Homo sapiens: one gene and its partner. The protein of the gene in region 1 interacts with the protein of each later gene in a pairwise test. Each region holds a gene or a part of one and is shown in the gene's direction. Other genes may lie near its edges.

Region 1 (7,021 bases):
TTAGTATAAATAAGAACTTAAGGGTCTGTTTATAGAGAATGTTGGCTTTAGTATATGGGCTTTGTAACATCTATTTTGTCTCTTTTTAGTGGCCTTTGTTTTCTCCAGGATTCTAAGTTGCGTATAAATGGCTTCTGAATGAATGAGGTGTTACTAGGTAGTATTTATAGTAATGGACTTAGCTGTCTTAACAGTACCTTTAGTGTTCAGAAAATTATCTGCATTTAAGATCTAGTCCAACTGTCATTTTAGAGAAGGAAGAACTGAGACTCATAAATTACTTGGACAACTAGTTAGTAACTATTAGGGCCTTGGACCCTCCAGAGTCTCAGTTCCATGCTGCTTCCACTCTGCTACATTCATTCCACAAATATTTGTTGAGTGTTAAGAGCCAGGCACGATCATCACAACAGAAAAACTTGCTCCCTCCTTTCGTGAAATGGACAGTTGAGAAGGAAAGACAAAATACAAACCAGTAGGAAATCGCAGCTGATAATTGAGCAAAGGAGAGGCATTCAGTGAACAGAGGACCTCAGCATACACGGGTCTCTGCCAGGAATACTCATCCCAAATACCCACATGATTTCCTCCCTCCCCTCATACAGATCTTTGCTCAGGTGGTGCTTCATCAGAGATGCCTTCCCTGGCCACTGTATCTAGACTAGCACTCCCATCCCTTACTCTACCTGACGTTTGTCATCACTTGACATTTATTCACTTGCTTATTAAAAATCATTTTCTTCTCCCACTAGAACGTGAGAGCAAAAGCTTTGATTGTTGTCATTGCTCTGTCTCCAGTAGCAAGAACAGTATCTGACACACGTTAGGTGCTCCATAGATGTTTGTTAGAGGAATGAATAAATAAATATAACAGGGAATTGGTCTAATCAGGAGGTTTGGAAAAACTTCACTGAGGCCAGGTGCAGTGGCTCACGCCTATAATCCCAGCACTTTGGGAGGCCAAGGTGGGCAGATCGTGAGGTCAAGAGATGGAGACCATCCTGGCCAATGTGGTGAAACCCCGTCTCTACTAAAAATACAAAAAAAAAAAAAATTAGCTAGGCATGGTGGTGCACAGCTGTAGTCCCAGCTACTCAGAAAGGCTGAGGCAGGAGGATGGCTTGAACCTGGGAGGCGGAGGTTGCAGTGAGTCAAGATCGCGCCACTGCACTCCATCCTGGCGACAGCGCAAGACTCCATTTAAAAAAAAAAAAAAAAAAAAAAAAAACCAGCAAAAAAACACTTCACTGGTTGAGCTGAGATCTGAAGGAAAAGCAGGAGTTAAGTTGGAGGAAAGTAGAGAGGAGTGGGAAAGGACCATGCCTCATTCACTGTTGTATCCCTAGTGCTTGTCACATATTTAGTGCTCAGTGAATATTTCTTGAATGAAAAAATGTCTGAGGCAGAAGGGACAAAGTGTGCACAGGCCACGTGAGTGAGCAAGTCTGCTGATTTCCAGGAAAGGAAAGAGGGCCAGTATAACTGAAGTGAGGGTTCAGGGACACTGTAGTAGCCTGGTGTGACACGTCACAGGAGAGGTGGGCAGGGCCCGGTCATGAGAACCAATTTGGAACTGAAGAAAACAAATGGTAAATTCAGTGTTTTCCTTACAGTTTATATTGCATTCCCCTGTAAACTTGAAGTGCCTCGTTTGCTGTAAAGTAAAAATGCAATTCTTTTCCTGTAGCTGGAAATAGAATGGTATTCAGGACTAAGTGATGTGTTCGGGGTTGCCATGACCTGCATCAGCGATCTAACCAAAAACCAAATCTGCCAAGCCACTATGTCATGGGGTGTCCTTGATTATGACTGTTTTAGTTGTGCAGAGTATATCAGTAGTACTTGGCAAAGTTTAACTTGTTTCCTGTTCATTTTGGTTTCTCTATGTTAGCCTTTGTTTTGGTAACTTTTAGACCTTCTACAAATCTTTCGAATTTTAACTTTTGAATTTTAATAAAATGACCTAACAACAACAAAACTAGTTATTTTCTTAGCCACTGTAACTGTAGAAATACAGGTTATATAGAACTCAAAATAAATTTATCATTTACTTATTTATTTATTTTTTTTGAGATGGAGTCTTGCTCTGTCGCACAGGCTGGAATGCAAAGGCGCAGTCTAGGCTCACTGCAACCTACGCCTCCCGGGTTCAAGCAATTCTCCTGCCTCAGCCTCCCAAGTAGCTGGGACTACAGGCATGTGCCACCACACCCAGCTAATTTTTTGTATTCTTAGTAGAGACAAGGTTTCACCATACTGACCAGGCTGGTCTCAAACCCCCAACCTCATGATCCGCCCGCCTTGGCCTCCCAAAGTGCTGGGATTACAGGCGTGAGCCACTGCACTCGGCTATCATTTATTTCTTTGCTTTAGTCTAGGTCATTGGTTAACTATGCCTATTCAAGAAAGTTGTTTCTATTCACTAACGTGAGAGCACCTTAAAATGTACTGCTGTGTGTGTGTGTGTGTGTCTGTGTGTGCGCGCGTAGCTTTAGAAACTATATTTCACCTGTAGAATGCATCTATTGCTTATAATAACATGTTAAAGTAGTGATACCTCAGAAGGATTATAACCCATTGTCCTACAGATTTTCTAATGTAGATTAGGGAAGGAAACCCAGCTCTACTTTTGCAAACTATTTAAAGATTTGCAACAAAATTAATTGATTAAAATCATTAACTACAGATATTCTCGGGCATTTTTTCTGGTCAGTTTTATGCACATTGAGAGTGTATGTGCCAGAAACAGGAGCTGATTAGAAGAGGTTTTCCTATAGGATGAGGTTTCTAAAGTCCAGTAAACTTGAGCATGTGGAGTTTCTCCACATACTGCTTTTCAAAACTGTAGTGATCTGTGAAGTAAATATAATTCTAATGCCCAGAAGAGCATTGAGCCTGTGGACTTTGACTCTTTAGAAAGGGAACCAGCGTCTGGGGAATATGGTGGGGTACTAGCAGTAGGTTAGAGCTTTAAAAATCGGTGTCACTGGCTGGATGTGGTGGCTCACGCCTGTAATCCCAGCACTTTGGGAGGCCAAGGCAGGTGGATCACCTGAGGTCGGGAGTTCGAGACCAGCCTGACCAACATGGAGAAACTCCATCTCTACTGAAAATAGAAAATTAACAGGATGTGGTAGTGCATTCCTGTAATCCCAGCTTACTCAGGAGGCTGAGGCAGGAGAATCACTTGAACCTGGGAGGTGGAGGTTGTGGTGAGCCGAGATCAAGCCATTGGACTCCAGCCTGGGCAACAAGAGTGAAACTCCATCTCACAAAAAAAAAAAAAAAAAAAAAAAAGGCCAGTGTCACTTCATTTTGCCTTGAAGATACCACAGAAGACTTATTCTAAGACTAGATAACTTACACTTCTGATGGCAACTTGCTATTAATACGTTTTAGGGATTTTTGCTTCTGAGGTTACAGATAATGTTCAGACTGCTGATATTAATAAAAATAATATTTAATTTATATTCCTGTTGCACTTTTTATTTGCTTTGCAGCTTTGATTAGTTTGTCCTTTGGAGGAGCAATCGGACTGATGTTTTTGATGCTTGGATGTGCCCTTCCAATATACAAGTATGTAAAATGTTTGTCTTTCTGAATATTTAAGGGTAAAATTTTTCTACTTTTAAAGCTTAAAAAAATGTTTTTTTACTACTGTAAAAGTAATGCAGAGAAATGTTCACTTACCAAACACATACCTTTGTAAAAATCACCACTTAAAGTTTGTTTCTAAAGATTTTAGGACACCAAGATGCAAATAATATTTTTGGCTGTTACCTGCTCTTTCACTACTGCTGAGTCTGCAGTGGCAAGATAGCTACACAGTACCTCAGCCCTCCTGCTCAGTTTTTAACATCTATTGATAATACTAATTACAAGAAAATTTAAAATGTCTTTTTGCAAAAAAATACCATAAGCAGTCAAAACACAATTAAAAAAAAAGAGAGAGATGTAAACAATTACTTTCCGGCCGGGTGCGGTGGCTCACACCTGTAATCCCAGCATTTTGGGAGACCAAGGCGGGAGGATTGCCTGAGGTCAGGAGTTCAAGACCAGCCTGGCTAACATGGTGAAACCCCATCTCTACTAAAAATACAAAAAAATAGCCAGGCGTGGTGACACATGCCTGTAGTCCCAGGTACTCGGGAGGCTGAGGCAGGAGAATCGCCTGAACCCAGGAGATGGAGGTTGCGGTGAGCCAAGATCACGCCACTGCACTCCAGCCTGGGTGATAGAGCAAGACTCTGTTTCCAAAAAAAAAAAAAAAATTTCTTTCCTTAGGATAGAAAGAACTTCTCAAAGTTAACATTTTAACATTTAGATAAATTAGAAAAAGATGGACAACTCAATAGAAAAATAAATACAAAAAGAGAACTACAAATTGCTAATAAGCACATAAAAATATCCCCAGCCTCACTCAAAACTAAACAAAATCTATTGACAAAGACAAGAGACAGGGCAAGCAGGGACTCTTTTGTGCTGTGGGGGGAGTACACATAGATAGTTTTCTTGGAGATAAGTTTGCTTGTAGCTCTCAAAGTATATATTCTTTGAGTTAGCCCTTTCACTTGTTAGACTTTCTGATACAAACCCACTTGCAGATGTTTACAAAGATATATTTAGTGGGGGAGAGTATGGATGTTCAAGCAGCCTTGTTTATTTTTTGGTTTTTGTTTTTGTTTTGTTGTTTTATGCGTTATTTATAAGAGCCAAAAAAAATTCTGAAAACATCCTAAATGTCCTTCAAAAGAAAAATGGTTAAATTATAGTAAATCTTTTAATGGAAATACTAGGCAGTCTTAAAAAGAATGAGGAAGAGCTGTAAGTGCTAACATGTAAATATGTTCAAGACATATTGTTAGAAAACTGCAGGGACCCATTCATATTTTAAAGTTTATGTGGAAATGTGGAAGGGTCCCTGAGAAGCTCAATAGGAAAGTGGGCAAGAGGAGATTTGGAACTTTTAGTCTTTACTTTTTGTGCTTTTGTACTGTTTGAATTATTTTTCTTAAGCATATATTCAATTTTTAATTTTTTTTCTTAAAATATTTAGGAAATGGTCAGGCGCAGTGGCTCATGCCTGTAATCCTAGCACTTTGGGAGGCCAAGGTGGGTGGATCACCTGAGGTCAGGAGTTTAAGACCAGCTTAGCCAACATGGTGAAACTCCATCTCCACTAAAAATACAAAAATTAGCCGGGCATGGTGGTGCACGCCTGTAATCCCAGCTAGTCACGGGGGCTGAGGCAGGAGAGTCACTTGAACCCAGGAGGCAGAAGTTGCAGTGAGCCGAGATCATGCCACTGCACTCCAGCCTGGGCAGCAGAGCGAGACTCTGTCTCAAAAAAAAAAAAAAAAAATTTAGGAAACATAAGTAGCTGCTTATCATTAGCCTCTGTACAATCAGATCTCCACCATGATACCTATTTTATTCTATGGTAGTTTTAAGGGCATCTATTTCTTTTTAACTTTTTATTTTGAAACAATTTTAGATTCTGAAGAAGTTGTGAAAATCATACACAGAGGTCCCCTGTACCCTCCACACAGCCTGCCAGAGTCATAAGATCTTACATAACCATAGTTATCAAAACCAGGAAATGACTGTGGTACAATACAGTTAACTAGATGTAGAGTAAAAGCCATCTATTTTTATTGTGATAAATTCTATATTCTGACTGAAAGTGTTCTTACTTTTAGCTTCTTTTCTGTATTTTGATTTCTGTAATTTGGGAGTTCCTCGTGTTGTAAGGGAAGTTTAGGGTTGTTTCAGCTTTATGCTAAGGTTGGGTATCATCCATTAGAAGTCAAGCGATTGAATCTTGATTTTTTAAAAAGACCATATTTTGTGTGTAGGAAAATGACATAGCAAAAATTACATTAACTTATTTTTCTTTTTCTAGCAAATACTGGCCCCTCTTTGTTCTATTTTTTTACATCCTTTCACCTATTCCATACTGCATAGCAAGAAGATTAGTGGATGATACAGATGCTATGAGTAACGCTTGTAAGGAACTTGCCATCTTTCTTACAACGGGCATTGTCGTGTCAGCTTTTGGACTCCCTATTGTATTTGCCAGAGCACATCTGGTAAGTGAATATATTCTTCCATTAATGATTTTATATTGAACATGTGTTACATTTTTCTCAAGCAAAGTTTTTGTTAATGACATGAAAAGAGGTGAAAGACATAAGAGCCTAGAAGATAGAGATTAAAATCTCACTTTATTGTTTGTTCTTGTTAACTAATAAAAGTGATATTGGAGAACGTGGCTTGGATCTGCAGCAGCTGTTGGCTTGCTAATACTTTTTTTTTTCTTTTTTTTTTTTTTTTGAGATGGAGTCTTGCTCTGTCGCCCAGCCTGGAGTGCAGTGGCGTGATCTCACCTCACTGCAAGCTCTGCCTCCCGGGTTCACGCCATTCTCCTGCCTCAGCCTCCCGAGTAGCTGGGACTACAGGTGCCCGCCACCACGCCCAGCTGATATTTTTTGTGTTTTTAGTGGAGACGAGGTTTCACCGTGTTAGCCAGAATGGTCTCGACCTCCTGACCTCGTGATCCGTCCGCCTCGGCCTCCCAAAGTGCTGGGATTACAGGCATGAGCCACCGCACCCGTCTGGCTTGCTAATACTTAACTGTCAGAGTTGAGCATATCAACTCCCCCAGTGCTGAACAACCCAGGCCTATCCTGTAAAACCTAAAATATGGAAGACCTGAGAAGGTGCATGTGCTCTGCAGGCAGAAAAGCACTGAAGAGGGGAAGGGGCTGGCTACGGGTACTCAGTTCTTCCTCCCAAACTCACTGATCCACGCGCCTTCATCTCTGGGGAGGTAGAGAAGACAGCCATATGGAGAAGGCAATTGTTTTCCCACCCCTTCAAAAGAATGTACATGGGTGTGTTTCCATCTGTGATATGCTAAAATTTAATCTACTCTAGATAGATTTTTATATTAAGGAAGAGTAAGCACATTCCTTTATAAACAGAAACTTGTAGAATTTTATGCTGCTTCTTCATAGCCCAG
Region 2 (7,189 bases), on another chromosome or scaffold:
TATCATTTATTCTTATAGTTTGCCATCTGAAACTCTTCAACTAGGAACTAGTTACATTAGAGAATGAGAGATCAGATATAAGGCCTCAAAACCTCACATGTGCCCAGGGCTTACGGAGGGCCCAGGAGCAATTTCTACATCTCTTTTTTGTCTACATGGGTTAATTTATTTGCTCCCTGAATTGTTATTATTAAAAGTAAACAAAAAGGAAAAAATGGCATGAGCAATTCCTAATGAAAATCAAATTAGCTTTAGTGAGCCCCTACCATTCCACCATTAAATGGATAAAATAGACAGACAGTACAAGAAAATCATGATTTTTATTTTTAATCTGACTAACCACAGTTCTTTAGCATCCTGTATGTGAAATTAGTATCATGGTTACTTTTCCCAGTTGGCCATTTGGCAGGGGATCTAAATAGAAAAACTAAGTATGGATGGCTATCTGATCATGGAATGTCAAGGAATGATGGATTTGACTTCACGGTAAAAAAATACAGACATTCAAGTTTCCCCAAATTCTTCCTATGTAGTCCACTGGGATAGTATATCTTTTCTGCAAGTAGAAAGCATTGAAACAAAGATCCCATAAACAACCACCTAAGCTGGGCACGGTGGCTCACGCCTGTAATCCCAGCACTTTGGGAGGCTGAAGAGGGCAGATCACCTGAGGTCAGGAGTTCGAGACCAGCCTGCCCAACATGGCGAAACCCCTGTCTCTACTAAAAATACAAAAAAATAGCAGGGTGTGGTGGTGGGCACCTGTAATCCCAGCTACTCAGGAGGCTGAGGCAGGAGAATTGCTTGAACCCGGGAGGTGGAGGTTGTAGTGAGCCGAGATTGCGCCATCACACTCCAACCTGGGCGACAAGAGCGAAACTCCGTCTCAAAAAAAAAAACCCACTTAAATGAAGTCATTGTCTTTTCACCCATTTAATCAGGCCTTCATTATAAGATATGTGGGTACAATTATTATTTTTGTGTTAGAGATAAGGATTCTGAAGTATAGAAAAGTTAAGTTACTGGCCAGGCATGGTGCCTCATGCCTGTAATCCCAGCACTTTGGGACCAACATGGCAAAACGGCATCTCTACTAAAAATACAAAAAATTAGCTGGGCGTGGTGGTGTGTGCCTGTAATTCCCGATACCTGAGAGGCTGAGGCACAAGAATTACTTAAAAAAAACCCCGAGAGGCCAAGGTTGCAGTGAGCCGAGATCATGCCACTGCACTCCAGCCTGGGCGACAGAGTGAGACTGTCTCCAAAAAAAAAAAAAAAAAGGAAGAAGAAAAGTTAAGTTACCTACTGAAGGCTCTTACTCCCAAGGCCACACTTTTAACCACTATGCAAAGTGCCTCTCCTTTTCTCTGACAAGATAGTGAAGAAATTAATAGTCCTCAGTCCTTTCATAAGATATAAAAAGAAAACAAAAATAGTACAGCTTTTAAATAACTCTTCACTGTAGCAGTTTTCACAAACAGGTCTACTTTTAGTATAAACCAGTATATATACCAGAATGTTCCAGGCAAGTGGTTTTAACTATTTCACACTTCCATTTCTCCATGTTACAATAAGACTACCAGTTTTTACCCCTTTCCTACTTCATATAAGTGTATGAAGTTGAGTAATATGATGTCATCAAACATACTTTGAGCTTCTTGGAAAAGTGATATGTAAACACAAAGTAGAGTGTTTATAAAAACAGTGTCAATGTGGTATGTATCCAATGTAAAATAGATCAAATTATTTTATTAGAGATTCGGACAAAAATAACTCTTTAATCTTATCTATTTTTTCATCATTTTGCATACTGCCTGTGTCTGTGGCTTTCAAGGGCAATCTGAAAGGGAACTAGGTCTGATACGTGTTGATTGGATTCGCAGTTTAGCATTCTCCTTATTGAGGAAATACTGCAGTACCCAAGATCTTGGCTGTTTCCAGGTTTTGGAAAAATCTCAGGTCAAAATTGTGTTGCCAGATGGGATTATTACATAGAGGAAAGTTGGCTGTGAATTTCCATATACCAAAGGCCATCCTAACTGTCTTTTATGAAGGACCCAACAGGCTTTTATTATAATTCAAAAATAGCCAGGTCACCCTAGGACTTTTTCCAGTGTTACCAAAACATCACTTTTACTGCCCAAACGGAAGTAGGCCATTACCTCACAGTAGAAAATAAAAGAAGCTAGCTTGAGACCAAGGTAGTTTTAAAAGGCATGAAGGATGAGAACCACCATTCTTATTTAGTGGCTCTGGACAGCGTCACTTGGAAACAGAACTGCCTCATGCACAGATAACAATGCCTGACACCCATTACACTTTACATGCACGTTCACATCTGCCTTTTGGATAAAGGGCAAGAAGAAAGGAACATTTACCATTGAGAAAGAATTAGAAGCCTTGTTAGTCTCCTTTTAAGACTTCTTCACATTCCACATGGATTAACTGTTAGGGAGAAAAACACTGCAAAAATAATCAGCAATGCATTTCGGAGGCTCATCAGCTCCCGGCTGACAGCTCACGTTAGTTGGATGAAGGCTGTGGATAGGCTTTTAGATGTGCTAACCTGTAATTTTGTTTCTAGAGTGGCCCAAAGTGGAAGGAGTTTTCACTCCCTCTCAATAAGCCCTCTTGTACGGTTGTGACCTCTGGCCTATCATAGGTTTTTGACGATAAAGGAGAGCCCGGGTTTTTGAGGTTAAGGGAGAGTTCCCTGACATCTTTGGGGTGAAGAAGAGATGGAGGGAGCAAAGCTGCCAAAGACCTCCTGTGACATTTCCACTAGTATCCACCTATAAGTAAGTGCTGGACTATGATTCCCTGGGGAGATCAGTGGCTCTAAAGACAGGCCCCTGGGCTCTTTCCTGGCTCTGACTCAGCTTCAAACCTGCCGTGCAACTGCTCAGAGTCTAAATGTCTTCATTTATGGAACTGAAATAATCCTGCTAAGATTACTTTCTTTGCTTCGTGATGTTTGCCTGAGAATAAGTAGCTGGGACTACAGGCGTGTGCCACCACGCCCATCTAATTTTTGTATTTTTTGCAGAGACAGGGTCTCACCTTGTTACCCAGGCTGGTCTCGAACTCCTGGGCTTAAGCAATCTGCCCACTTTGGCTTCCCAAAGTTCTGGGATTACAGGTGTGAACCATCACACTCGGCTAAAATGTTTTGAAAAATGGAAACATTGTACAAATGTGAGATGTTGTGCAACATGTCACTGAAACACGGTGGTATAAGAGAAGTTTTGGGAACCAGCAGACCAGAATTAGGCCTGAGAAAATCTTACAGTAAGCAGACCAGAATTAGGCCGTCTGAGAAAATCTTACAGTAAGCAGACCAGAATTAGGCCTGTCTGACAAAATCTTACAGTAAGCAGGCCATCTTCCCAGGCCTTCTCTTTTCTCCAGATAATGAAGAAGGCTTTTTAAAAGCAAAGCCAACTTGATTTGTTAATTGATCATCCAACTTCTTAACTGTCTTTTTCTCATGGTAAAATACCGAGAACATTGTGGGTGAGGAGCAAGTCGGGAGGTGGAACCCACCCCCGCACCCTGCCTCCAATAGATTGTATGTGTGGGTCGCTATTGCTGGGACCCACGAAGGCTGTGGATTGAGGACACAGGGTAGAAGTGGGATCTTCTGCAGGTCAGTGTCAGATGTGTCTGTGTGATGTAGTCATGGGAGAGGCGCGAGTCTTGGGCGGGTGTATCTTAGGGGTGTGGAAGTGTCTGCAAGGGCCTCCGTGGTATGTCATCACATTATTTATATCATGGGCATGACCCTGAACGTTCACCCGAGAGTGGTGAGAGAAAGGCCAGGATTTAAATCAGTCTTGACAGCGCAGATGAAGTTTGTTATTGTTTTCCGCCCTTCCCGAGGGACTTCGGAAATGGCCCCCTGAGAGGTGAATTCTTGGAAAGAATATGAGGGCGGTTAAGGCGTCTCTGTCTCAAACTCTCCGGATTTTTTGCAGCTACCAGGGACTGCGAGGGTCTGCGTCCTGGGTGGAAGGAAGCGGCGTCAGTCAACTTCCTCGCAGCGGCGGCAGCGGCGCGGGCTGCAGCGGAGCGCGCGGGTCTGCGCATCCCGCCCCCGGGTCGGGAAGGGGCGGAGCTGGGCGTCACCCGCCCCCGGCGGTCTCCTCCTCCCGGCCGCTCCCCCGAGCCGAGCCCGCCGCGGTCACAGCCACCCGCGGGAAGCTCGTGGCCGGGACCCCGAGGCGGGAGCGCGGGCTGGGCCGGGCTGGGCTACGCGCACGGGCTCGGCCGCCGCCCCTGCCGGTGAGTCCCGCCGCGGGAGGCGCGGAACGGGTCGAGTTGGGTATTGGGACCGCGAGGTCGGGGAGCCCCGGGGCCCGAGCTCGGGAGGCGGGGACGTCAGGATCGCGGCGTTGGGGAGTCCTCGCACCCCGAGCTCAGAGGGGAGGTCCAGAGTCGCAGCGTTGGGAACCTGAGGCCAGGGGCCGGAGTTTAGGGCCCCGATGTTGAGTCTCCGAATCCAAGCCCGGAAGGGGGGACGACGGGTTAGGATGCTGGGGAGCCCTGGAGCTCTGAACGGCTGTAGTGGGGTGGCCAGGACTGCGATGCTGGGGAGTCATGGAGCCTGAGCCTGGAGAGCTGGCGGGGGTGTGGGGACCGCGATGTTGGGAAGGCTGAGCCCGGAGGGCGGGAGATTCAGGACCAAGACGTGGGGGAGTCCGACAGGGCAGAACGAGGGGCGTCCTGTCCGCATTTGTGGGGCGCCCTCCGCAGGGCGGAGGGGAACGGAACCTGGGAGGGGAGTGCGGAGGAGAGGAAGCCCGGGGCGGTAGGGAGAGCCCGAGGAAGGGCAGCCCGAGGTAGGGGAACCCCGGAAAGAGTAGGGTGGGTCTAGGCATGTGCTTTCGCCGGGGAAAGATGGAGGGGGCTTCTCTGAGAGGGTGGGCGCGAGGAGCGGAGTTGTGATGGGAACCGCCGGCAGCTGGCTAATGGGCGGATGCTGGGGCTTGGCTGGATGGGAACGCCGCGGTGGGGTGTCGGAGGTGGCTGGTGGGGCTGGAACGCTGGGAACGTCTGTCTAGGCTATGAGAACGCAGCGCCCTCGGTGGAACAGGGTCGTAGATAACTCGAGAGGGAATCTAGTCTAGGGAGCAAGACCGGGCATCCCCAGACGGAGGCGGGTGGGGACCTCGCACTCAGCGCGCTTGGGGAATATTCGGAGCCTGGGTTTGGGGGCTGCTGCACCTTGCCGACCCGGTGCGGGGACCTGGAGGTAGCCGGGCACAGCAGCTTCCTGTGCAGCTGTGGGTGCTCCAGGCACTGGCAGACTAGTGGGAAGTCCAGGAGCCTTGGCAGGCTCATTGTCTTGACCTAAGTTGCATTCCATATTTCTTAGCTGGGTTAGAAATGATTTTGTCCAGGAACCCAATGAGAAGAGCCTGGGCTAAAAAAATTAGTTATGGAGTGAGATTTCAAATGTACAGGTAATACCTACCCGTGTGTGTGCGCGCCTTAGGGATAACTCATACAATACACTGTATGTGTGATTTTTAGACCCACGTGTGTACTACTTGTTCCAGTACTCTGAGAAGCTGTTTCTGGGTAAAAACGAGGAAAATCCACAACAAATACACACACCAAACAATGTCCACAAACGCACTGCATTCCAGTCGAGTTAAACATGAGAGTATTGTACAGTTTGGGAGTATTTGCTTGTCAGTGAAGACTCCTGTTACTGAAGTTAATAGGAGTTGCCTGCATGGAAGGTAGACTGCCCTTGACTGCCCTGTTAAGGTTATCCACAACGTGTACCCAGCCCTGAGCTGCTGCACCCTTGACCAGGTCAACTGGAAGGGAGCCAGACTGCTTAGGACCTCAGTGGATGAGTATCCAAGTGTGTATCTAAAAACAAAGGACCAAGGCATGGCTTTGTTTTTGTTTTTGTTTTTTATTTCTGCTGTTTGTCCTTGGGTGCGTGTCCTTCAATTATTAGTTAAATGTTGACTATCTTACATTAACCCATCTTGTATTGTTAATTATGTATGGTAATTATTTCAGTTATTTGGCGTAACAACCAATTCTGGAAGACCCAGAGTAGAGGAATCTTATTAAGTGGATATATCCATTGAAAGATATGTTTTTTTTTTTTTTTTTTTTGCGGGTGTGTGTATGCACCAGATTTCCTTCTGGTGCATATAGGTCCATCTTCTGACACACACTGAGATTTGAGCTTCATTGGATAAACAAGGATTATTTTGGCAACTAGCATTTGTTGGGTCTGTTTTTAATTCATGAAAAGGAAATCTTTAATAATTATGCAAGTTAACAGGATAGAAAGCGATTTATTCATTTTACAAGAATCATTTCAGGATAAGCATATTTCCATTAAGGGTGTGTGTATACCTTATTGAGTGGTCAGGACCTTGCATCAAAATCTGCACTATCATTCCTGCAGCAGTGTACTTATTCACTTGGACGTAACACTTGCTGATGCTTCCAATTCTTTATCCAAATGTTAAAATAAATATGCCAGTATTTATACATTCAAATCAGTATTTCTCCCCTTCAAAAGCCTGCTCTTGGCAAGCTGTGTACTAATTCTAGTGATGCTGTCACTACTGAGAATAATTTTGGAGCTCCTGCTTTGGAGTTGCCTTCCGAGTTTGCAACACATTTCCTGATTGCCTCAGTGGTGGCAAACCTTCCTCAGCTGGGAAACAGCCAGGCACTGTGCGGGGCCAACTTGGGCTTCCGAGGTGGGGAATCGAGGTTGTCAATAAGTATGCTCATTAAAGTAATGAAAATTCTCTTGAAAGACTGGCAGTTCTAAAAGGGGCATTTAGTAATGGCATGGAGTATGTATTTAGGATTGGAAGGAATTACAGTTGGTCCCTGAATAACACCGGGGTTAGGGGCTCCCATCATCTCCACAGTGGAAATTTTGAGTACAACATTTAACTCCTCAAAAACTTAACTACTTTGAAGCACAACCTTCATTTTGGTGTTTATGCTCTGGTATGTATGTAAAGTAATTGGTCCTGTCACTTTATTGTTATAGCTTATGGCTTATTGGGCTAGAAAAAGTAAGCCTTTCTTTGCCCCTCCTGATACTTGTTACTAGGCAGTCTCTGTCATTGTGGATTTTTACAGAAAGCAAAACAAAAATACAAAAGACTTGTTGTCTCACCAAAAAAAAAAAGGTACCCAGAAA

Evidence for each region.
Region 2: the proteins of LEPROTL1 (region 1) and PAQR8 interact in binary tests that used the Homo sapiens proteins (3 or more experiments, as listed by UniProt).

Annotation. Positions count from the first base shown.
Region 1 is NC_000008.11:30,098,398-30,105,418, forward strand, and holds part of LEPROTL1 (leptin receptor overlapping transcript-like 1), read left to right. Parts: intron 1-3,500; coding exon 3,501-3,576; intron 3,577-5,902; coding exon 5,903-6,089; intron 6,090-7,021. UniProt on the Homo sapiens protein: Negatively regulates growth hormone (GH) receptor cell surface expression in liver. May play a role in liver resistance to GH during periods of reduced nutrient availability.
Region 2 is NC_000006.12:52,357,969-52,365,157, forward strand, and holds the start of PAQR8 (membrane progestin receptor beta), read left to right. Parts: upstream 1-4,182; 5' UTR 4,183-4,281; intron 4,282-7,189. UniProt on the Homo sapiens protein: Plasma membrane progesterone (P4) receptor coupled to G proteins. Seems to act through a G(i) mediated pathway. May be involved in oocyte maturation. Also binds dehydroepiandrosterone (DHEA), pregnanolone, pregnenolone and allopregnanolone.